Linked DNA regions of Homo sapiens. The protein of the gene in region 7 purifies or fractionates together with the protein of the main gene of each other region. This does not show direct contact. Each region holds a gene or a part of one and is shown on either strand. Other genes may lie near its edges. The genes, in order: NBR1, SYNRG, EDC3, BMP2K, MRI1, CLINT1 and ARHGAP18.

The links.
Region 1: the proteins of ARHGAP18 (region 7) and NBR1 purify together in Homo sapiens (affinity purification with mass spectrometry, with the first as the bait; one large-scale study listed by BioGRID). This does not show direct contact.
Region 2: the proteins of ARHGAP18 (region 7) and SYNRG purify together in Homo sapiens (affinity purification with mass spectrometry; one large-scale study listed by BioGRID and IntAct). This does not show direct contact.
Region 3: the proteins of ARHGAP18 (region 7) and EDC3 purify together in Homo sapiens (affinity purification with mass spectrometry; one large-scale study listed by BioGRID and IntAct). This does not show direct contact.
Region 4: the proteins of ARHGAP18 (region 7) and BMP2K purify together in Homo sapiens (affinity purification with mass spectrometry; one large-scale study listed by BioGRID and IntAct). This does not show direct contact.
Region 5: the proteins of ARHGAP18 (region 7) and MRI1 fractionate together in Homo sapiens (co-fractionation; one large-scale study listed by BioGRID). This does not show direct contact.
Region 6: the proteins of ARHGAP18 (region 7) and CLINT1 purify together in Homo sapiens (affinity purification with mass spectrometry; one large-scale study listed by BioGRID and IntAct). This does not show direct contact.

Annotation. Positions count from the first base shown.
Region 1 is NC_000017.11:43,198,714-43,202,213, forward strand, and holds part of NBR1 (next to BRCA1 gene 1 protein), read left to right. Parts: intron 1-1,453; coding exon 1,454-1,895; intron 1,896-2,972; coding exon 2,973-3,067; intron 3,068-3,500. UniProt on the Homo sapiens protein: Ubiquitin-binding autophagy adapter that participates in different processes including host defense or intracellular homeostasis.
Region 2 is NC_000017.11:37,518,919-37,522,418, reverse strand, and holds part of SYNRG (synergin gamma), read left to right. Parts: intron 1-1,770; coding exon 1,771-1,881; intron 1,882-2,204; coding exon 2,205-2,240; intron 2,241-3,347; coding exon 3,348-3,479; 3' UTR 3,480-3,500. UniProt on the Homo sapiens protein: Plays a role in endocytosis and/or membrane trafficking at the trans-Golgi network (TGN). May act by linking the adapter protein complex AP-1 to other proteins. Component of clathrin-coated vesicles.
Region 3 is NC_000015.10:74,665,025-74,668,524, reverse strand, and holds part of EDC3 (enhancer of mRNA-decapping protein 3), read left to right. Parts: intron 1-3,500. UniProt on the Homo sapiens protein: Binds single-stranded RNA. Involved in the process of mRNA degradation and in the positive regulation of mRNA decapping. May play a role in spermiogenesis and oogenesis.
Region 4 is NC_000004.12:78,779,350-78,782,849, forward strand, and holds part of BMP2K (BMP-2-inducible protein kinase), read left to right. Parts: exon of another isoform or gene 1-2,545; intron 2,546-3,500. UniProt on the Homo sapiens protein: May be involved in osteoblast differentiation.
Region 5 is NC_000019.10:13,767,522-13,771,021, forward strand, and holds part of MRI1 (methylthioribose-1-phosphate isomerase), read left to right. Parts: intron 1-837; coding exon of another isoform or gene 838-926; exon of another isoform or gene 927-1,039; coding exon 1,040-1,216; intron 1,217-1,302; coding exon 1,303-1,527; intron 1,528-2,056; coding exon of another isoform or gene 2,057-2,076; exon of another isoform or gene 2,077-3,500.
Region 6 is NC_000005.10:157,803,646-157,807,145, reverse strand, and holds part of CLINT1 (clathrin interactor 1), read left to right. Parts: intron 1-1,033; coding exon 1,034-1,280; intron 1,281-3,426; coding exon 3,427-3,496; intron 3,497-3,500. UniProt on the Homo sapiens protein: Binds to membranes enriched in phosphatidylinositol 4,5-bisphosphate (PtdIns(4,5)P2). May have a role in transport via clathrin-coated vesicles from the trans-Golgi network to endosomes. Stimulates clathrin assembly.
Region 7 is NC_000006.12:129,640,678-129,644,177, forward strand, and holds part of ARHGAP18 (rho GTPase-activating protein 18), read right to left. Parts: intron 1,342-3,500; coding exon 1,139-1,341; intron 1-1,138. UniProt on the Homo sapiens protein: Rho GTPase activating protein that suppresses F-actin polymerization by inhibiting Rho. Rho GTPase activating proteins act by converting Rho-type GTPases to an inactive GDP-bound state.

The DNA.
Region 1 (3,500 bases), on a different chromosome or scaffold from region 7:
CACGTTGGGAGGCCGAGGTGGGCGGATCATGAGGTCAGGAGATGAAGACTATCCTGGCTAACACGGTGAAACCCCATCTCTACTAAAAATACAAAAAATAAGCTGGGTGTGGTGGCGGGCGCACCTGTAATCCCAGCTACTCGGGAGGCTGAGGCAGGAGAATGGCGTGAACCTGGGAGGTGCAGCTTGCAGTGAGCTGAGATCATGCTACTGCACTTCAGCCTGGGCAACAGAGTGAGACTCCATCTCAAATCAATCAGTCATGTATATCTTTATATTTTTTTCCACATGTGTGTACAAATACATAACAAAAAGGTCTGGAAAGACAGTACCAAAATGTTCACAGCTGTTATTCTGATAGGATTTATGGGTAATTTTTTTTTTTTTTTTGAGATAAGGTCTCACTCGCCCAGGCTAAAGTGCGAGTAGCAAGTTTATGGCTCATTGCAGCCACAACATCCTGGGGTCCCCCTACCTCTGTTTCCCAAGCAACTGGGACCACAGCCACATGCTACCACAATGAGCTAAATTTTTTTTTTTTTGTAGAGATGGGATTTCGCCACGTTGCCCAGGCTGGTCCCAAACTTCTGAGCTCAAGCAGTCTGCCTGCCTTGGCCTCCCAACGTGCTGGGATTTTAGGCGTAAGCCACCACACCTGGCCTGGGTAGCTTTTTTTTTTTTTGGGACACAGTCTCTGTCACCCAGGCTGGAGTGCAGCAGCGCGGTCTCGGCTGACTGCAACCTCCGCCTTCCCAGGTTCACACCATTCTCCTGCCTCAGCCTCCCGAGTAGCTGGCACTACAGGCGCCCGCCACCATGCCCGGGTAATTTTTTTGTATTTTTAGTAGAGATGGGGTTTCACCGTGTTAGCCAGGATGGCCTTGATATCCTGACCTCATGATCTGCCCACGTTGGCCTCCCAAAGTGCTGGGATTACAAGCGTGAGCCACCGTGCCTGGCCCTGGGTAGCTTTTTTCTATCCTTTTTTACCCTCTCAAACATGATTGGCCAGTTTTCTCCCATGACTGCATCATCTTTGTAAAGAAGAGGAGGAGATAGACATATAATCCTGCAATACTCATCTCCTAACTTTTTCTCTTTTTATAGCACTGTTAGTGTATCAGTTTTGGTTTAAACTCTACTCAGTATATTAACCATCACATAAAAAGGAAAAAAGGGATGGAGCTGCCTCCTTTTATGATTCATAGAGCTTCTTGGAAACCTGAGTGTTTCTGCCTACCTTGTTTCTGTGAGCTTTGATTCTATTTTGTTTTGCATAGTCTTCAAACTTAGAATATGGTCATAGTTCCAGAACCAGCCCTTCCCTTTAGTTCTTCCCTCTCCTCTGGCTTTCATAATTCTAGCTTATGATCCACAAGGCTTTACCAAGTAAGGATAGTACTTAGGCCTGCTTTTAGCTTCCACCTTAAAATTGGTTGCTTTCATCCTTTAGTGACATTTGCCTTGCCTGAAGGACCACTTGGAAATGAGAAGGAGGAGATTATCCATATCGCTGAGGAAGAAGCTGTCATGGAGGAGGAGGAGGATGAGGAGGATGAGGAGGAGGAGGATGAGCTCAAAGATGAAGTTCAAAGTCAGTCCTCTGCTTCCTCAGAGGATTACATCATCATCCTGCCTGAGTGCTTTGATACCAGCCGCCCCCTGGGGGATTCTATGTACAGCTCTGCGCTCTCACAGCCAGGCCTGGAGCGAGGTGCTGAAGGCAAGCCTGGGGTTGAGGCTGGGCAGGAACCAGCTGAGGCTGGGGAAAGACTCCCTGGAGGGGAGAACCAGCCACAGGAGCACAGCATAAGTGACATCCTCACGACCTCACAGACTCTGGAAACAGTGCCCCTAATCCCAGAGGTAGTGGAGCTTCCACCGTCACTGCCCAGGTACCACTCACAGCCCCCTCAGCTGGGGTGTTCTTCAGAGGTGAAATAAAGAGAGGAATCGACCTGATCTCAAAACCTGTTTTTTCCTCAGTATGGAAAGAGACTATTTTCCATAGCAAAGTCTGAATTTAGATGAATAAAAGTTGTATTTCCCAGTATTTGTGGATTCTGGATTTAAAGAAATATTTGTTTTAGTTGGCCTTAAATTATCTGAGTATAGTCTGTCTGCTTATATTTTGATTATTGAGAGCTGGTTGTGTTTTTTTTTTTTTTTTTTTGAGACAGGGTCTCAGTCTGTTGCCCAGGCTGGAGTGCAGTGGCACAATCTTGGCTCACTGCCACCTCTGCCTCTGAGGCTCAAGCAATCTTCCCACCTCAGCCCCCTGAGTAGCTGGGACTATAGGCATGGGCCACCACACCTAGCTAATTTTTGTATTTATTGTAGAAGCGGGGTTTTGCCACGTTGTCCAGGCTGGTCTTGAACTCCTGGCCTTAAGCGATCCAACTGCCTGGGTCTCCCAAAATGCTGGAATTACAGGTGTGAGCCACTATGCCTGGCTGAGAGCCAGTTTTTAAACACAAACATCCCTGGACCTTCCCTCCTTGTTTTATTGACTCTTCAGTAAAGGCAGCAAAAACTCAACCCAAACAGTCATAATTAGGAAGTTAAATCCATTATGGGAAAAAACACTATAAAACCAAACTAATTATTTTTAATTCTCTGGTGAATCTATCTGAATCATTCTTGTCTCCTAATAGTAGGGAAAATGCTGGAGCCTTGACTATAATGTAAACCATTCTCCCCAAAAGCTAGACATTTCCGTTTATTGACACCACTTGATATAGGTGGGGACATGACCAGACTGAAGCCAACATTTCTAGCTTGCCTGTGGCTAAAGAGGAAAATGGGGTAGAATGTAGCCCTTATGATGGAACCCTAAATCCAGACATGTGATCTGGATCAGAAATGTGAAGCCTCTGTAGAGAATTTGGCACTGCTGTGCTGTGTTTACTATTTCTCCACTGTTGCCATAAGTGCCTTTTCAATTTACTTTCCATATTGTGTCTTTCTGAAAGGAGCTCTCCTTGTGTACATCATCATGGTTCCCCAGGAGTGGATTTACCAGTTACCATACCAGAAGTTTCTTCAGTCCCTGATCAGATCAGAGGAGGTAATGATCAGCCTAAGCTTTTTCTCTTTTTCTCTGCTCCTGTCTAATGGAAACCAGGTATAAATAGCCTCTCTCTCTTCGTGATTCTTGGTGGTTTTTTGAAACTTGCCCTTCACAGGCCAGGCGTGGTGGCTCACACCTGTAATCCCAACACTTTGGGAGGCCAAGGCAGGCGGATCATAGGGTCAGGAGTTCGAGACCAGCCTGGCCAACATAGTGAAACCCTGTCTCTACTAAAAAATAGCAAAAATTAACCAGGCATGGTGGCGGGCACCTGTAATCCCAGCTACTTGGGAGGCTGAGGCAGGAGAATCACATGAACCTGGGAGGCGGAGGTTGGAGTGAGCCGAGATCGCACCATTGCTCTCCAGCCCGGGCAACAGTGCGAGACTCCGTCTGAAAAAAAAAAAAAAAAAACTTGCCCTTCACTCTC
Region 2 (3,500 bases), on a different chromosome or scaffold from region 7:
CCACTTTGGGAGGACCACTTGAGCCCAGGAGTTCAGGATCAGCCTGGGCAACATAGGGAGATAATCATCTTTACAAAAAAATCAAAAAATTAGCTGGGCGTGGTGGCATGCACATGTGGCCCCAGCTATTTGAGAGGCTGAGGATCTCTTGAGCCCAGGAATTCAAGGCTGCAGTGAGCTGTGATCACGCCACTGTACTCCAGCCTGAGCAACAGAGTGACTGGACGGCTTTCCAAGATTGAGACCTACCCTTTTAACCATTGTGTGTGTGTGTGTGTGTGTGTAGTGAATTAGATAATGCATATAAAGAGCTTAGTATAGTGCTTGAAAGTAAGGGCGTATTAGCTGTTGTTCTATTTATGGTCTTTAGCTGGTGACCTTCAGATCTCTCCACAAGCAGGAGGCCTGTATGTGTATCCAACCACCTGCTTATATAGCATGTGGCCTTCGCTGTCCCACAGGCAGCTCCAGCTCAGCTTGGACCAAACTGAACTCTTCTCCTCAGCTTCCATCCTCAAACCTGGTCCTTCTCTCACGTGTCTTATTATGGTGAATCCTCTCAGCTGCCCGGGTCCCCCAACCTCTCCCATCCAGCAGGTCACCCAGGCCTGCTCATTCTCCTGCCTCGTCAGCTCTTTCACGTGCCCATTTCTCTCCATTCCCCACCGCCGCTGCCTTCATTCTGACCATCGGTATCTGTCTCCAGGACTGCTACAGCAGACTTCTGGCTGAGGCCTGTGCCCTGAGGATTGCCACCCCCAATTCATTGCCTATACTGTAGCGAGAGGGATCTGTCAGTAATACGAACCTGGGCCTGTCGTGATCCAGTTGGAAGCCTTAGTGGCTTCCAGGATGCTCCTTATCTTCCTTGGAGTCCTCGTGCTGCGGCTTCATCTCCTCTTTCCCTGGGCCCTGCCCCCACCCTCTAGATTCCTTCCCATACCCCATCTTTAGCTCAGAGCCTTTGCCTGTGCTGCTTGTTCTGCATAGAATATCCTTCCCTCCCCTACCTCACCCAACCCTCCTGTCCCCCTCACCTAGCAGCTCCCATCTACACTCAGCCAAGGTGATTTTAGAATCTAGGAAGCAGGCCAGGCACGGTGGCTTATGCCTGTAATCCCACCACTTTGGGAGGCTGAGGCGGGTGGATCACCTGCAATCAGGAGTTCAAGACCAGCCTGACCAACATGGTGAAGCCCTGTCTCTACTAAAAATACAAAATTAACCAGACGTGGTGGCGCGCCTGTAATCCCAGCTACTCAGAAGGCTGAGGCAGGAGAATCGCTTGAACCCGGGAGGCAGAGGTTGCCGTGAGCTGAGATCACACCATTGCACTCCAGCCTGGGCGACAGAGTGAGACTCTGTCTCCAAAAAAAAAAAAAAAAGAAAAGAAAAAGTTCTAGGACGCAGTCTCTGGCTTCAGGCCCCATCCTCCTCGAGTTGGGCTAAGTGCCGCTCCCTTGTGCCCTGGCACTCAGGACTTCCCCCAAGTAAGCACACCCAGCACTCATGGCACTGCACGGGCTCCCCTGGCGCCCACCTGAGACTGAGTTCTCAGAGGTCAGAGGGCGTGTTGTACTGGTGCCGGCCTTCCTAGCACCTGGAACCGTGGCAGGTTCCCAGTGGATGTGTGGGAGGTTAATTCTTGTAGTGGTGGTGTTAGAGTACTGTACTTGCCGCTAGGCCTGCTGGGGGTGAGTGATGAGGGAGTGAAGTGAACAGCGTGTGGACTTGTGGACTTCTTACCCATTTGTCTTGTCGTCCTCACAGCCAGATGAAAACTCGCTGGATTTTTCCTCCTGTATGTTACGGCCTGGGATTAAAAATGCTCAGGAGCTTGCCTGTGGAGTGTGCCTCTTGAATGTGGACTCGAGGAGCCGGGTAAGTCACGCAGCCTCCTTGCAGACAGCAAAGGGCTTCCCTAACATGACTCTGGACAACCTCATCTGGCCCACTTTACTGCAGAGTTTGTGACCAGAGGTGGGGATTTTCTCAAGTCCTAAAAGCTGATGGTAGGAGCAGACACATTCCCTCGAGAGGGCAGCGGGGGAGCTGTGGAGGGAATGGACGCGGCTCTCATGCCTGCAGCACCCTGTGCATAGTGGGGAGGTCAGGGGAAAAGGGTGAACCTGTAAAGATGTGTTTGGAGGCAAGAGGCCCTGTTCTGGGAATGTTGTTGACCTGTGGTTTCAACGTTATTTCAGAAAGAAGAGAAGCCTGCAGAAGAACATCCTAAAAAAGTATGAACCAGTTACACCTTATCTTAGCGTCTCCATTTTAATTTTGAGTGTGGAGGGCAAATTGGATGATTCTATCCATTGCCATCCTGAACTGTTCCAATCATGAATCCTTCACTGAGTCAGTTTTGTTCCCATAATGTTTGATGGAGTCTCCTAATGTGTCTGTGTGGGTCCACTTCTGTCTTATTTGCATGCTTGTTTCACATAATTGGCTTCTGGTGTTGCAGTTATTTTTCTCTGTGATGAATGGGGTGACAGAATGAGCAACTTCTGGAAGCCTGGAAGTTGTAGTGACACACAGATGGAGATCAAAGAGCTTCAGGATGTAGCCATTTAGCCATTTTAACAGACAAGCAGCAAATTGGGTTTTAGAGTTTTGTTTATTTGCAGTGCATATTAGAAAACTAACCCCAGGAAGTGGTTGAGGTTTGGACTCTACTTTTCCATGGCTGACTGTAGCTTACTGATAAGCCTGTTCATCTGGAAATAATTCTTATGTGTTTAATGCCCATTCATTTCGAGGCATTTTTTTTTAACTCCATACCTGTTTGGACTTTTTGATAATGTAGATTCATTAGGCATTAGGGTCAATGCCATTAGACCCTAAGAGTTGTTATCTGTCGTTCTCTAACTCTCTCGTTTTCTAACTCTCTCGTTCTCTAACTCTCTTGTAATTTTTTGTCATGATAGGCTTGTGGTCAGCTACAGGAGTGTAAAGGATTGCATGCTGTAGTCAGATGCCGGCCTTAGGAGGAGGGCTTCCTTCAGCACAGTGAGGGATGAAAGCTATCCACAGCCCTTGGCTACTTCAGTTCCCCTTATCATGATTCCCCCCCTCCACCCCATAACCTCTGTCTGCCTTTTCCATGGAAGATTTGGCCACCTTTTGCTGAAACTAGGTTTAGTGGTAACAATTTTATACCTTTAATTAGCAGTAAAAAACCTTCTCTCTTGAATTCCTGTAGCTATCCGCTCAGCTTTTATGTGTGTGCCATTTTGGCCTCAGCCTCTGTGACCTGGAGAGATAGATGTACATGTTGGTTGCTGAAAAGCTCTGAGATGCAGAAAAAGCCTGACTTGCCCCACATCTCTGTTTATTTCTGGCAGGCATTCAACTCAGAAACAGACAGTTTCAAGCTGGCCTATGGAGGGCACCAGTATCACGCCAGCTGTGCCAACTTCTGGATCAACTGTGTCGAACCAAAGCCTCCTGGCCTCGTCCTGCCTGACCTGCTCTGAACAACTCCTCTGTGAAGCATT
Region 3 (3,500 bases), on a different chromosome or scaffold from region 7:
TGAAAATCTTTTTTCTTTTAGCAGAAATTGTTGATTTGTTAGAAGTTCAAATAGGCAGTTTATAATCTTCCGTGCACTTGAAGATGACCCTTATTAGCAATTCATATTATTTTTTTCTACACATTTTTCCCCGTTATTAACGTCTTACATTTGTATGGTATACTTGTTATAATTATTGAACCAATGTTGATGCATTATCATTAAACAAAGTCCATATTTTATTCAGATTGCCTTAGTTTTTACCCGGATGCCCTTGTTTCAGGATCCTGTCCAGCATATCACATCATATTTGGTAGTCATTTCTCTGCTTGGCTCTTACAGTTTCTCAGACCTTCCTTGTTTTTGATGACCTAGACATTTTGATGAATACTGGTCAGGTATTTTGTAGAATGTCTCTCAGTTGGTACTTGATGTTTAAATCATGATTAGACTGGGGTTATATGTTTGGGGGTGGAAGACAACAGAGGTAAAGTACCATTTTCATCACCTTGTGTCAAGTGTATATATTATCACCATGGTTTATAACTTTTGATGTTCACCTTGATCACCTGGCTAAAGTAGGATATATCTAGTTTCTCCTCTGTAAAGTGACTCTTTCTTCCCCTTTACATATGTACTCTTTGGAAGGAAATCACTATGTGCAGCCCACACCCAGGGAGTGAGAAGTTATGTCCCCTCTCCTTGAGGACACAGCATCTTCAGACATTACTTGGAATTCTTTTATGCCAGAGATTCCTCTCTTCTCCCCCATTTGTTTATTTATTCAGTCATTTATTTATATCAGCATGTACTCATGGGTATTTATTTTATACTTTGGCTTATAATTCAATATTACTTTATTTTGGTACTCAAATTATTTCAGTTTTGGCTAGTCTCCAATCTTTCACTTGGATCTCATGTCCCTTTGACATACTCCAATCATTGTGGATTTTATTTTTTTTTTTTTTTAGTACTTAGGTACTTTCTCACACTGAAAGATGCTTACTACTACCACTACTACTACTACTACTGCTGCTGCTGCTGCTTCTCCTCCTCCTCCTCCTCCCTCCTCCTCCCTCCACCCCCTCCCTCTCCCCCTCCCTCCTCCCCCCTTCTCCTTTCTTTCTTCTTCACTAGGGATGCTCATTGCTCCTGGGTGTCACCCTTATAGCTGACAGCAAGAAAATGTGTATACTTCTCTGCAGAGTTCACAGAAAAGAAAATATATGTGTGTATATTTAACCAGCATATATATACATATTTAAATATTTCTATATGTAACTATGTATATTGTACTATACTAAGTATGAGTTCATACTGATGTCTCCAACTTTAATCCATTACCACATGGATCCTTCTAGCCTTCTCCTTTTGCTTGTCTGTTACTTCTCACTCCAACAGTGAGAAACCTGTCTCCTATTGTCATTCATTCTTTACATAATTATTCAATTCCAGTATACATGTATAGTGGTATCAGAATTATTAACTTGTATCGCCATTCCTGTGGGAGACTATCAAACAGAATGTGGTGCTTACGTACTGTTTCTTTTGCCTTTCATCTGACTCCATTCATTTCTAGAGTTATTTAGGTCTCCCATTTCCTTCATTGACTTGTTTCATATATTCATAATACAATTAATTTGTTTTATCACATTCTGCATTCCATCCTGGGATCTTCTAACCTCCTAAATGATTTTTAAAAATTTGCAAACACTAAGGCTCACTCTTTGTGCTGTAAAATTCTGTGGGTTTTGACAAATACATAGCATCATGTATCTGTCATTACAGTATTAAACAGAATAGTTTCATTGTCCTAAACAATCTCTTGTGCCTTACCTGTTCAACTTCCCCCACTTCCCCCTGGCAACTACTGATCTTTTTATTATACCATCCCTGCAGTTTTGCATTTTTCCAGAATATCACATAATTAAAATCATACAGTATGTAGCCCTTTTCAGACTGGCTTCTTTCACTTAGCAAGATGCATTTAAGATTCATTCATGTCGTTTTGTGACTTGATAGGTCATTTCTTTAATTGACGGATAATGTTCCATTGTGTGGATATATCAATTTGTTTACCCATTCACCTATTGCAGGACATCTTGGTGGCTTCCAGGTTTTGGTTATTCTGCTTTTGCTGTTTTGTCAGTTTCCTTTTTCTAGATTGTTAACTGTACATAAATGAGGTAAAGAGATCATAGGGCAGTAAAATGTTACTATTTTTCAAGAAACTTATGTAGAATCCAGATTAGTTTGGAAAATGTTTGTGGCCTGGGAATGGCAATAAGACGTGGCTCAGAATAGGTTTCTGATAGAAGGTAGAGTTATAATTATTTTTCCACTCATTGAGCCCTGTAAGTAAAAAGGTCTGCCTTAGAATTTTCTCCAGTTTATGTACATTGATATTGAGACTAGTAGATTGATGAAGCTATAGAAATATAATCTGTCGGCCGGGTGTGGTGGCTTATGCCTGTAATCTTAACACTTTCGGAGGCTGGGACGGGCAGGTTGCCTGAGCTCAGGAGTTTGAGACCAGCCTAGGCAACATGGTGAAACCCCGTCTGTACACAAATACAAAAAATCAGCTGGGTGTGGTGGTGGGTGCCTGTAATGCCAGCTACTCAGGAGACTGAGGCACAAGAATTGCCTGAACCTGGGAGTCGGAGGTTGCAGTGAGCTGAGATTGTGCCACTGCCCTCCAGCCTGGGCAACAAAGCAAAACTCTGTCTCAAAAAAAAAAAAAAAAAGGAAAGAAAGAAATATAATCTGTCTTCAGTTCTGGCTTTTAAGTGTTCTTTCAGGATTGCAATAAGGAGTTGAGGAATTTGTTGGTTTATAATAGTTAGCTAATCCAACACTGATGATTTAGCACAAGCAGATTTTAATCTCTTTTCGGGTGGGAGTGGGTTTAAAGAATCATGTAAAGAATAGTTTTTCTGTGACCATTCAGAATGTTTGTCAAATAGACATAACATCAGTCCCAGGGAGCAGAGGGAAACCAAGCCTTGTTTAGGGTGCAGCTCTGTGTATGGGTATAATTCATATTTATCAAATCCCATGTCACAGCTGAAAATGGTGACCATGAGGGGCAGATGAAAGGCATCCCTCTCTGAAATCTTAGTCTATGAGCTTGAATAGTCATTGTAACATGCAGTTGAATAAAAATTTAACAGTTAAGTTAAGGCTCTTTTGCCTGTAGAACATGAAAGTAGATAGCTGAGGCTGGGCATGATGGCTGATGTCTCTAATCCCAGCACTTTGGGAGACTGAGGTGGGCAGATCACCTGAGGCCAGGAGTTCGAGACCAGACTGGCCAACATGACGAAACCCTGTCTCTACTAAAAATACAAAAAATTAGCTGGGCCTGGTGGTGCATGCCTGTAATCCCAACTACTTGGGAGGCTGAGGCAGGGAGAATTGCTTGAACCCGGGAGGTGGAGGCTGCAGTGAGCCGAGATCGTGCCATTGCACTCCAGCTTGGGCAACAAGAGTGAAACTGCATCTCAAAACAAACAAAGTAG
Region 4 (3,500 bases), on a different chromosome or scaffold from region 7:
CACTTGTATTTTCTCTGTAGTCTTTGCTCCTTGAACACTAGACAGCACTTTAGCACTACGCTTAGGGACTGTTTTCAACAGTGAAATCACCAATAGCAAGCACAAAAATGAGAAAAACATGGCACTAAATAGACCATGAAAAGGACACTTGTTTACACTATGTAAGCTGAAACTAGAATGTGCACGTCAGTAGACTCACATTTTTCACCATTGTGCACATGTCTGCAATGACAGTGGAAGTGCTATGAGTAATGATTTTGGGGATACAAATAAATGTTAGTGAGTAGATGAATTTGTAAATATAGTATCCTCAACTAATGAGGAGCAACCTTTGTTATAGGTAGATATGTATATGCACATATTATGTCTATAATTTGAAAAGCAGATTCTCAGGGGTAGGTTGTATGTTATAACTAAACTGTTAAAGTTTTCTCTCTGAAACATTATATACTTTGTATCATAATGTCTTTGTAGTCAAGCACATAAGTGTTTGAAAATAGAACTTGCACCTTTTTAGTTCCTCCTCAAAGTTTAAAGGACTGATAACATAGTGAGGCAGTTCATGTTTTTTTTCTCAAAAACATGTTTAGGAGTCTGTACTAAGCAGATCCCAGCTTTGGTCTGTAGAAATGAGGGAGAGCGGTATGTTGGTTTTAGCTTCAAACAGTGACAAATTGTCAGGCTCATATAATTAATTCAATGTAACCTTCCAAGTTTTTACTAAAACCTGGGGTTGGCTTGTTGACCACATGCATCACCATAACAAGCCTTTGGTGCTAGTCTGAGGAATTTAATACTGATTGATAATAAGTTGGTTTTTGAGTAGGGGACATTGTTTTCCCTAAATGTCCTTGGTACAAAATGGACCTAAAATGGGGTGTTGAGACTGGGAGAGCAGAGATAACTTGTTGAGATAATGTAATCACGAGGTTATGGGGGCTGGGTAGGAATGATAGTGTGAATATGGTGATGTGGGTAAGATTTACTGAGATGGGTGTTGGGGGTTATTGGATTGTTAGTAATTGGAGGCCAGGAATTTACTACAGGGTTCTTTAAAAATAGCTCAGTATTTCTCTTAGAGTTAAATGCTTAGATAAGCTAAGTATTAGCCAGTTCTCGTTGTTAATTTTTCAGGAAGGTTGTACTATACATCTGATTTTGCACTATAAATTAGTAGGGAAATGATAGATTTAAGCATTATATCTCATTTGCAGAAAGCATCTGTGGCTGCCCAGTAACTTGTAAGTTCACATTCCGAAGAGAAGATAGAGAGGATAGAAAAAAGGGAAGGATCGAATAAAAATATCAACAACTGTTACTACTACACAACTTCATTAAATGCCTTTGGTGTGCTAAGCACTGCTAGGTGCTACTTAACATAGTAGAGGACAATAGTGGAGGTATTCTTCTGGCCTATGAAACTTACAGATTAGTGTGGAAGGTAAAAGCTAAACAAGCCAACAAAAATCACCAAGTTACTATAGTTAAAATTTTTTATATGTGTCGTGAAGACAATGCTCAGGGTTTTATGAGAGAATTCAGTTTAGACTGGGGGGTCAAGGAAGGCCTTTTTGATCTTTTAGCAGAAACCTGAAGGATGAAGAAAGTTAGGTAAAAACAGAGGTGTGAGGTTGGGGTGATTTGAAGTATGTCATGAAGACTGAAGTCTCTGTGTGAGGGAAGGAAGTTTCAGAAACTGAAATATGCTCAGAGCTGTGGACTACAATGAATGAATCACATGTAAGAGAGATCCAAGATGATGTTGGCAAGGTGACCAGGGTCCGGGGCTTAGTATACCATGCTGAGGAGTTTAGGTTTTATCTGAAATGCAACAGGAAGCTATTGAAGGGTTTGAATTGGGGCAGTGACATGCTCTGATTTGTATTTTTACAAGATCATGCTGATTGCTGTATAGAGAGGTATACAAATTATAAGGTTAAAATGATGACAGTGGGGATGAAGATGATAATGCTTAAATGGGAAGACCTTGTGGTGGTCATAGGAAGTGTTAGGAATTACTTGCTTATGTATCTCTCAGGTGAAAGTACCGTTTGGGAACATAAGGAAGGAACAGATTTTTTTTTTTTTTTTTGAGGTGTTTGGAGGACAGCCAGTAGTTCAGACATGTTTAGAGATGTGTTTGGATGAGATATCTGAGAGGAAATATCAAATGGGAAGCTGGGTATGTCGTCTGGAACTCAGCAAAGGTGTTTGGGCTTAGAGATGGTACTTCTGATTGATTAGTGAGCCCTGGCTGTTATTTAAAGCCCTGGGAGAGGATGGATGTAGGGAGAGTGTAGAATGAGAAGGTGCTCATTGAAGGACTCCTATAGTGCATTGGTCTCAGACATTAGTGTTCATTGTAAACATTCAGAGGATTTGGTAAAACAGAAGTGCTGAGCCTGGTCCCCAACTTTTGATTATGTCTGAGTGAGGCCCACTCTTTCAGTGATACAGATGCTGCCGGTTCAGGAACCACGTCTTGAGTACCGAGTACCACTGATTTCGAGCGGGCGAAGAAGACTAAGAAGAAGGTGCTAGAGAGGTATGAGGAATACCAGGACACTCTGATACCTGGAAACTTGAGAGTATTTCAAGAAGGGGAGGGAGTGAGCAGTTGTGTTGCTGCAAAGTCATCTTACTTGATCACATTTTTTCGCCTGGCATTCACAGTTATTCATGCTCACTTCTTATCTTTAAAAGCTTACCTGTAATTATTTGCTAGGTGAATACTCTTTGCGCCTGGTGCAATGTGCTCCACTCCCTGTTGGTCCGTGACTGAATCTTGTACTTGCCTAGCACTCTGCCTTTGTCTCTGTAATCCCTGTTTCCTAAGTACTGGTTATGATCACTTCCTCCTTTCTGTGGACACTTGTAACTATTTGCTTTTTTCCCTCTTGTCACATTTAACCTGTCTTGAGATGGAATTATGTAAGCACCTAGAAACACTAAGGTTGTTAACTACTGTTCCTCTGTCATCTCCACTACCAGATAGTAAAATTCTTAAGGCTAGACAGACTCTGTTTTAATTGATGTTGTATCACACAAGTTGGCCATACCATGAACATTCAGCTACTTCTCAAAGGAAATGGTGCTTGATTTTTTTATTTTTAATCAGATGATGATCTTCAGTAGAATTTAAGGCCTAATTTGCAAATTGAAGAGCACCAATGGAGGGCTCTTTACTGGACCATCAAAGGTTTTGTACTTAGGCCAGAGGACTCTGTGTTTTCTAGTTTGGTGAAGACAAACAACCGTTAAGGCAGTGTCATTTCACTTAACAACTTGAAACAGGAAAGAAAAAAAATAACCCAGATGCCCCCTTGTAGTTATCTTGCTTTATTGACATTGTATTTTTATTTATTCTACAAAGGTGGCTGAGTTTTTAAAAAAGTATGTTACATGCAATTGTGAAATTGTTTTACATTTTGTGGTTAATTTTGACAGCTTTTTTTGGATGCTGAGCTTTTTGGGGGTAGAACCAAGGTCTATTCACCTGT
Region 5 (3,500 bases), on a different chromosome or scaffold from region 7:
AGACCCTGTCTCTATTTTTAAGCCTGTAATGCCAGCACTTCGGGAGGCCAAGGTGGGCGGATCGCTTGAGCTCAGGGGTTCAAAACCAGCCTGGGCTTCATGGCAAAACCCCATCTCTACAAAAAATACTAAAATTAGCTGGGTGTAGTGGTATGCACCTGTGGTCCCACCTATTCGGGAGGGGACTGAGATGGGAGGATTGCTTTTTATTTATTTATTTATTTTGGAGACAGAGTCTTGCTCTGTCACCCAGGCTGGAGTGCCATGGCACGACCTTGGCTCCTTGCAACCTCTGCCTCCTGGGTTCCAGCGATTCTTTTCAAGTATTTTCTTTCTTTCCTTTTTTTTTTTTTTTTTTTTTTTTTGAGACAGAGTCTTGCACTGTTGCCCAGGCTGGAGTGCAGTGGCGCAGTCTCGGCTCACTGCAAGCTCCGCCTCCCAGGTTCACGCCATTCTCCTGCCTCCGCCTCTCGAGTAGCTGGGACTACAGGTGCCCGCCACCACGCCCGGCTAATTTTTTGAACTTTTAGTAGAGATGGGGTTTCACCGTGTTAGCCAGGATGGTCTCGATCTCCTGACCTCGTGATCCATCTGCCTAGGCCTCCCAAAGTGCTGGGATTACAGGCGTGAGCCACCACGCCCAGCCCAAATATTTTCAATCCACATGGTTGAGTCCATGGATGGAGAACCCATAGAAAAGGGGGGCTGCCTGTACACATGAGGTGTTAGAAGGTGATAAATGCTAAGGACAGAGAGCAGGAAACTGAAAGTGTGGGGATTGCTATGCAAAACTGATATATCAGGGAAGGCTTCACCGAGAAGGTGTCCTTTAAACAGACGTGAAACGGAGCTATGCGAGCATTGGGAAGAGCATACCAGGCAGAGGGAACTGCCACTGCGAGGGCCCCTGGGCGGGACTGTGCTCGGTAAGCCTTTGGCAATCCACGCCCAGACTAGGAGCCTGCACCCCTAACCAATGGACCACCCTGTCTGTTTGCCCCTCCCCGGGGCCTTCTCCTGGTGGGTGGGGCCCCCGCAGGTGTGATTCGCTCACTGCACAGCCTGGGCCGCCTGGAGCATGCCTTCTGCACAGAGACCCGGCCCTACAACCAGGGAGCCCGGCTGACGGCCTTTGAGCTGGTCTATGAGCAGATCCCCGCCACCCTTATCACCGACAGCATGGTGGCTGCTGCCATGGCCCATAGGGGCGTGTCAGGTAAGCAGACGGTAAGCCCTGGGGGCGGGGCTCTGGAGCATGGGGCCAGGTAATGACCCCCAACTTCTCATACGCCCCCTCCCCAGCTGTGGTCGTGGGAGCTGACCGCGTGGTTGCCAACGGCGACACAGCCAACAAGGTGGGCACCTACCAGCTGGCCATTGTCGCCAAGCACCATGGCATTCCCTTCTACGTGGCTGCCCCCAGCTCTTCATGTGACCTCCGTCTGGAGACCGGCAAGGAGATCATTATTGAAGAGCGACCGGGCCAGGAGCTGACCGATGTTAATGGGGTCCGGATTGCAGCACCTGGTAAGCTGCCCCCTCAGAAAGGGGACACCCCAGCTCCTGGGCACTTCATGGAGGCAGGTGATATGCAGGTCCTTGTCATCCTTCTGGAACATACACAGCTCCTACAAGCCACTTTTTCTTTTTTCTTTTTTTTGAGATGGAGTCTTGCTCTGTCCCTCAGGCTAGAGTGCAGTGGCACGATCTGGGCTCCCTGCAACCTCCACCTCCCGGGCTCAAGCAGTTCTCCTGCCTCAGCCCCCCAAGTAGCTGGGACTATAGGTGGGTGCCACCACGCCTGGCTAATTTTTGTATTTTTAGTAGAGATGAGGTTTCAACATGTGGACCAGGCTATTTATTAACTACTGACCTCAAGCAATCAGCCTGCCTCTGCCTCCCAAAGCGCTAGGATTACAGGTGTGAGCCACAGCACGCCTGGCCCAAGCCACTTCTTCTAACAGGTGCATCCTGGAGGTCAGATCCAATGTTGGAATTTACAACTAACCGGTTATATGAATGATCTTGAGTAACTGTCTTGCTATTCTCCACTTAGGTTTTCTTAAGAGGAAATAAGAATATCTGGCTGGCCACGTGTTTGTAAAGAAAAACCAAGACGGCCAGGCGAGGTGGCTCACACCTGTAATCCCAGCACTTTGGGAGGCCGAGGCGGGCAGATCACAAGGTCAGGAGTTCGAGACCAGCCTGGTCAACATAGTGAAACCCCGTCTCTACTAAAAATACAAAAATTAGCCGGACATGGTGGCACCCGCCTGTAGTCCCAACTACTCAGGAGGCTGAGGGAGGAGAATCACTTGAACCTGAGAGGCGGAGGTTGTGGTGAGCTGAGATTACACCATTGCACTCCAGCCTGGGCAACAGAGTGAGATTCTGTCTCAAAAAAAAAAAAGAAAAGAAAAAGCAAGATATTTCTACACTTATTTTTATTTGTTTATTTTCATAGAGATAGGGTCTCGCTATGTTCCCCAGGCTGGTCTCAAACTCCTGGCCTCAAGCGATCCTCCTGCCTCAGCCTCCCAAAGCACTGAGATTACAGGTGTGAGCTCCCATGCCTAGCTGCAAGACTTTTCTTAGCTGCCTATACTTCCTGGCTGTGCAACCGTTAGCAAGTTCCCTAAATTCTCTAATTCCCTAAGATCCTCACTGGTCCTATCTGTAAAATGGGCTATGGCTAGAACCTGCTGCATAAACCCAAGGGCGGTCAGTGAATTAACCCACAGGACATTTAGATCAATGACTGGCCCTTTAAATAGTTCATGCACTCAGATGCCGTGGCTCACGCCTATAATCCCAACACTTTGGGAGGCGGAGGTGGGCGGATCACTTGAGGTCAGGCGTTCCAGACCAGCCTAGCCAACAGAGCGAAACCACGTCTCTACTAAAAAAATATAAAAATTAGCCAGGCGTGGTGGCACATGCCTGTAGTCCCATCTACTTGGGAAGCTGAGGCATGAGAATTGCTTGAACCTAGGACGCAGAGGTTGCAGTAAGTTGAGACTGCACCACTGCACTCCAGTCTGGGTGACAGAGCGAAACTCCATCTCAAAAATAAAAAAAAAGGCCGAGCGCTGTGGCTCACGCCTGTAATCCCAGCACTTTGGGAAGCCGAGGCGGGCGGATCACCTGAGGTCGGGAGTTCAAGACCAGCCTGACCAACATGGAGAAACCCTGCCTCTACTAAAAATACAAAATTAGCCGGGCGTGGTGGCACATGCCTGTAACCCCAGCTACTCAGGAGGCTGAGGCAGGAGAATTGCTTGAACCCGGGAGGCGGAGGTTGCAATGAGCCAAGATAGCGCCACAGCACTCCAGCCTGGGCAACAAGAGTGAAACTCCATCTCAAAGAAAAAAAAGAAAAAACAGTTCATGAAATATTAGCATGAACCAATATTAGCATTATGGGGCCAGGTAAAATGGCTCACACCTGAAATCCCAGTATTTTGGGAGGCTGAGGTGGGAGGATCACTTGAGCTCAGGAG
Region 6 (3,500 bases), on a different chromosome or scaffold from region 7:
AGTTCAGTCTGAGGTAAATTGCATCAGCAGTTTAAAGGAGAATTTTAAACATTATATTCCAGAATATTTATAAATTAAACCACCTACTCTAAAATTAAGTAATACAGGTAATGGAACATGTTTCAAGTAACATTTCTCTCTTTCTCTCTCTTTCGCTCTCTCTCTCTCTCTCTCTCTCTCTCCTACTTACATCAGAAAAAAACCCAATGACTTGTTACTAGAGAACAGACTAGGGCTGATATTTTCATTCCTAGCATATGAAAAACCCAGGCTTTTACTGTTTAGTTTTTAAAATCTTTTTCACTATTAAAGAAAAAGGAAAGAAAAAATTGTTGAATGTGGCTGAAGGAGAATTATCTTTAAAATATTTTAAATACAGTTGTTTTCTAGAAAGCATTTTCTATAGTTATATAAAAGTTTGATCTCCTGATACTATAGTAAAATAGCACAGTTGTAAAGTGCATTCCCTTATATTTTCATGCATTTACAGATGAGTTTAATTATTCGAATTAAGATGTGTGATTTTTTTAGCATCCATTGAACTTTTATTATTTTATTATGTACACACATTAGTCTTTGAGAGTTGATGCAGAATTGTGTTGTAAAAGTGGAACTATAGTAATTTGCACACAGTCCATGTCAAGAAAATAATCATCACATGCAAGTGTTTGAACTCTCAGGGTCTTATCATGGATTCTGATATCAAATCCTATTTTATTTTTAAGTTAAGCTTAAATCTGTAATAAAAACGAGTTATTTTGACATTTTTTATTTATACACATTTATGTAAATACTTTTTTGTAGCAGTATTTTAGACTTATATAGGATATTCTCTGTGTTTCCACTTCCCCTCCCCAGCGCACATATATCATTATTCAGACAGCTTAGATAACATTCTGTTGATCCCTGTCAAGTAGTCAAAGTATGAAATTTTGGAGTTACTGTATTTGAAATTCTTTAGCTCAAATCACTGAGGGACCCATTTTAAAATAATCCCGTCTTATTATTTTGCTTCATTTTTAATATCTTTTAGCGACAGCGATGAGGAAAAGAAAGCGAGAAGAGGCAGATCTCCCAAAGGTGAATTCAAAGATGAAGAGGAGACTGTGACGACAAAGCATATTCATATCACACAGGCCACAGAGACCACCACAACCAGACACAAGCGCACAGCAAATCCTTCCAAAACCATTGATCTTGGAGCAGCAGCACATTACACAGGGGACAAAGCAAGTCCAGATCAGAATGCTTCAACCCACACACCTCAGTCTTCAGTTAAGGTGGGAATGGCAGTAGTTTACACATTATACATGGTTTTATTTTTATAAACCGCTCTTCGAATTCCTGCATTAGTAGGCTTGGGCATTTCTAGGCAATCATATTAATTATGGATCATCTGGCATGTATTACCAAGAGACATTAATAATAAGAAATCTCTTTGAGGGGAGAAACCTGTCCAATTGCTGAATGATTGGGTACTTTCTATGAAAGTAGAAATGACACTTTTGGTTTGTTTGGGGAAGGTTGTGAATCAGAATGTAGTGCCTCTGTCCCCATCTAGACAATACTGGTTACCAACCACAAGTAGATTCACTAAAGAAAACATTGGAAGTATTTGAAAGTTTTAAGAAATGACAAACGAGGGAGTAAGAAGAGATATATAGGGGCAAGTTATCTCATGTAATGTAGAAACGTTGCCTATAAAGGGAGGCGTGTTTGCCTCACAGTCATTACTGATCAGTATCAAAAGAAGCACTGCCTCTTGTACCATCTTCGTTTGTTTTTATTTACCATAGAGATGAAATCCACCTGCTAGGTACCTGGCCAAACCCTAGTCTTTTCAACAGAAATCTGCCAAATAGGGAGATTTGCCTCAAAAGACTAAATTATTGTTTTTGTCACTTTCCCCGACTACTGTTTCCCCAGTTTGTGTCTTTGCAAGAGAAATAGCTAAAAGCTGGGAAAAACAGTTTTCTAATGTATGCAGCAGATTGTAGGTGACTCTGAAAATAAAACCAGGCCTGCTTAGTTGCAATAACAAATACCATGTCAGCTTTTGCCAAATATCTGTATAATTTTTTTAATAATAGAGACTTTTATCACATATCTTAAAGGATTTTAAATAACAGTTTGTAGTATAGCCTGAATATATGACACTCTGCAATAAATATTTTATATTTGTAGTACAAGCTTTTTCTTTTTCTTTTTCTTTTTTTGGAAGACCGAGTTTCGCTCTTGTTGCCCAGGCTAGAGTGCAATGGCGCGATCTTGGCTCACCGCAACCTCTGCTTCCCAGGTTCAAGTGATTCTCCTGCCTCAGCCTCCCGAGTAGCTGAGATTACAGGCATGCACCACCATGCCCGGCTAATTTTTTTGTATTTTTAGTAGAGACGGGCTTTCTCCATGTTGGTCAGGCTAGTCTCGAACTCCCGACCTCAAGTGATCCACCTGCTTCGGCCTCCCAAAGTGTTGGGATTACAGGCTTGAGCCACCGCGCCCGGCAGTACAAGCTTTTTCTTTTTTGTTTTCATTTACCCTCCTCCCCTCAAAAAAAATGTCTAGAAGGTTGAAGTTCTTAGAAAGTTACCCAACTCATTTGGATCTGTTCTTAAAGGTGTTTTGGAATCACAGTATATAGTATTTTAGTTTTCAAAGTTCAAATCAACATGCCTAGGATCTTAGGGTTTCCCCATTGCCTAATAATTGAGTTCTAATTTAGCATGTATATATCTAACATATAGGACATAGGTATTTAGGTATCAGGGTGCTTAGCTTTGTGGAGAAGATAAAAATAGTATTACAGGTATAGGCCTCAGTTTAGTTGGGGAACTAAATATGAAACATATCAATATATCAAATAACATAGAATTATACTAACTTGTGTGATATACAAACAATAAGTTTTGCTAAGGTTCATAGAAATTTAGAGCTGTTTAGGATCTTGACCTCTAATCCAGTGGATCTCAAGCCTTGGAATTATCTAGGGAGCTTTCTTGTAAGACTTTAACAGGCCAAGGTCTTGGCCTTTTTATACCTGGGCAATTATGACTCAGTGTATTGTATGGGACTGGTACATATGCTAGGGTATTTTTTTTTTTTTTTTTTTTTAATGAACTGATACTTAGCATTAAGATTCAAGTGGGATCTGGCAGTTAATATTTTCCAGAGTGAAATGCAGTCAGAAAAGTGAGGTAGGAAAAAAAGTGTCAATGTTAAGAGACTTTTACACTGCTGGGAATGGAGGTACTTAAAAGTGCTTGCTGCCTCTCCATAAGGATTCAAGGTCAGTACTCTTTTTCCAGAAAACCCTACCCTTATTAAGCTAATTACAGGTATTTATGTCTAAATTGAGAATTAGAGATGGATAGAGCTGATTTTTAGAAAAACAAACTTTTCGAAGCTCCTGAGTTATGTGTGTGTTTTCAGACTTCAGTGCCTAGCAGCAAGTCATCTGGTGACCTTGTTGATCTGTTTGATGGCACCAGCCAGTCAACAGGTAA
Region 7 (3,500 bases):
ATATAGATTTTGCTAGTTAATTAGATCCTAAGTCATTTAGTTAAGAAGTCATTGTGTTGAGAAGGAAGTCTCTATTAGTGGATCACAAAGCACTGATTGGGGCTCTCACATTTTGGCATTTATACATCAACTTATATAAACATACTTACAAATGTATAGATGGCACAAGGCATAGAAAGAAAGCTAATACAACAGACAAGAGAATTGGACATGAAAAACTTAGCAACTGCTTGAATTTCAGAGATTAAAAGAAACGGTACAAAAAAACTTTAAAGTTTTACATGTTTCTCCCAGAATATCAAATATTATAGCAGAGAATGGGAAATATGGCTGGAAAGTGACTCTACAGAAATTATGCACCAAATACAAGAAAGAAGTAAATATGGAAGCTAAAAACAGTAATGCCACCATCTACTGTCCAACTCTATATTTTTAGATTAGTTGGCTAAACATGAGCCGTTGCATCCAATCTGGAGAAGTATACTTTGAATGACAAAATAGCCAGGACCACAACAGGTCTTTGAAAACCACCCACAAAAATTGGTTTATGTGAATTTTCTTTCTAGAAATGTCTTGGCTAGGAACAAGATAAATATTCTCAAGTATATGAAAGGCTATCATGTAAAAATAGAAGAGCCTTCTTCTGTTCGTCCCAAAGGCATAACTACAGCAAGAGAGTCAAAGTTAGAGGACAGCAGATTATAAATCAATAAAACAAAGATCAAAAGAACTCAAGCTGACTGACCACTGGAAAAACAGTCTCACTGCAAAGCAGTGCTCTATCACCATCTGCACTCACTAGAGACCAAATGACAATGTGGCTACCACATCACAGAAGAAATTTAAAGGGAGGTTAGATGGTTTCAAAGATGAAGTCTAACTCTAAAAAGCTATGATACAGTGAGCTTAGCCAACAACATTCCAGCCATATCTATGACTAAGCTAACTTACTTATGCCACTTGTATCTGGCAGTTGCATCCATAAATCTGCCTCAAACAAGTATTTTTCAAGTTGAAAGGCAGTATCTTTTTTTGGTGGTCCTAGCTTTAATTTTTTTTTTGTTCTCTTCCTTTCTATGCATTCATTTCCTATAAATACATATACAAACAACAAAAGCTTTATTTAGTTAGTTATTACCATCAGGCTCTTTGACAACAACCACCTCTTGATCTTCTTGGCTGTTTTCACTAGATTTCTTGATGTTTTCTAGTTCTATCCAATAGTCTTCCATAGATAGTTCATCCAAAGAATCCTGGGAAATTGATCGATCAAATGGAGGCTTCTCCATAACTTTGATGGTGGTGCTTTCCTGGTTCATAGTGTACTGGCCATATCTGCGACTGTAAATTCAAAAGAACCCATGGTTTATTTTAGTACAAAAGGAAGCAGTATAATTTCTAAGACATCACAGCAACAAGCTGGAGAATTTATTAACTCCTTAAGTTATCCTTAATAAAACTAAAGGAATATATATTTTGGAACAGTTTACTATGGATTATAATATGCTTGTAGAATAAACAGTTTCATGCTCCACAGAAAAGTATGGGGAAGTACAAATAGCAACATGGTAAATTATTTTTCCATTTACATTAAATGAAGACTCATTTTTCAAATATATTTTTTAGCGACAAGGTCTTGCTCTGTTGCCAAGGTTTGAGTGCACCAATGTGACCATAGCTCACTTTAATTCCAAATTACTGGGCTCAAGTGATCTTCCCACCTCAGTCTCCTGAGGAGCTACTACTACAGGTATATACCATATTGCCCAGCTAATTTTTTTTTTTTTGGCAGACATGGGGTCTTGCTGTGTTGCCCAGGTTGGTCTGAAACTCCTGGCCTCAAATGATCCTCAACTGATCCTCCCACCTCAACCTCCCAAAGCACTGAGATTAAAGGCATGAGCCACCACACCCAGGCATAAGACTCATTTAAACCTGAAACTTTGTTTTTAAAAAGCAACACATTAAATCTTGATTACAGACTATTAATTGGGAATGAATTTTATATAATTCTTGTGTTTATCATTTATATTCATAAACCAAACTTAGTCAACTCTTATACAGCAAATATCTTCAACCGATGAAGCACTATTTGAATTTCCATTTTATTTTTGAAATCAAAATATAAATAGGATGATTTAAGTTTGCTGTTATAATCTACTGTAGAAAGAAATTTCTAATCTTTATTTATAAATGGACCCATGATTTATATGTATTAAAAATTCAAAACTGGGGTACAAACTCATTTATTAGCAATTCTGAATAGCTTGGAATTACCTCAAACATTTCTCTCTCAGATATTATCTATGAAGAATAAATTGAATAAATAAGAGTATTTGTATAACTTCAAGTAAACAATGTTTTTTGTTATAATTCATATCTTACCTACTTCTAAAATTGAATTAAAGGAGCTTATAATAAAAACCTATATATAATAAAATAATTTTTTGTTTTATTATTATTTATAGAGAAGACCATGCCCGATTCCTTAAAAGAAGAAATTTTTCAGCTTTGATGCCTTTCCTTTATATACGGTTGATATGGTTTGGCTATGTCCCCACCCAAATCTCATCTTGAATTGTAGTACCCATAAGCCCCATGAGTCCTGGGGGGACCCAACAGGAGGTAATTTAATCATGGGGGCAGTTACTTTCATGCTGTTCTCGTGATAGTGAGTGAGTTGTCATGAGATCTGATGGTTTCATAAGGGGCTTTTCCCCTTTTGGCTTGTTACTTCTCCTTGTTGCCATCATGTGAATAAGGGTGTGTTTGCCTCCCTTTCTGCCATGATTTAAGTTTCCTGAGGCTTCCCCAGCCATACTGAACTGTGAGTCAATTAAACCTCTTCCCTTTACAAATTACCCAGTCTCAGGTATGTCTTTACAAGCAGCGTGAGAATGGACTAACAATAAATTTTTTTAAAGAATACAATTTGAGTGAGGACAATAGTTGAATAACTGTTTTGCTATTCTAATTTTCAGATTGCTTCTCTCAAGAAGGACTTCCAGGAAGTAATTCTTTGTTTGCCAGATTGGTTTTACTTACTGTACATATTGAAAATAATTTTAAAATTACAACAAAATAATAGTGTGTGAACATTCACATTTAAACTAACCTTTCCCAAAATTGTTTAAAATAGTAGGATTTTAATAGTACATAAGGGAGAGGGTCACTAAACTCTGGGCGAATCTATCCAGCAGCTTAATTCCAACTGGTTAGAAAAAGGCAAGGAACTTAATTGTTTATTGCTGCAAATAAATGCAGTATAACTGAGCACTTAGCTTTAATATGCTAATAAGCCAGTTTTATTCCTTTAAAGATGATTCTTCCTGCCTTGATTACAAACTTTATTAATGCTGGTTGCATACATGAATAAACAATCACTATACTCTCTCCCCAGTAGCAACCTTGGGGTGGCGATGGGTGGGAATTAGGACAGGGGCCAACAAGCCTAAGTCTAGACATGTTTGTGAATCTCTTTCCTTAAGTCTCCATTGTTC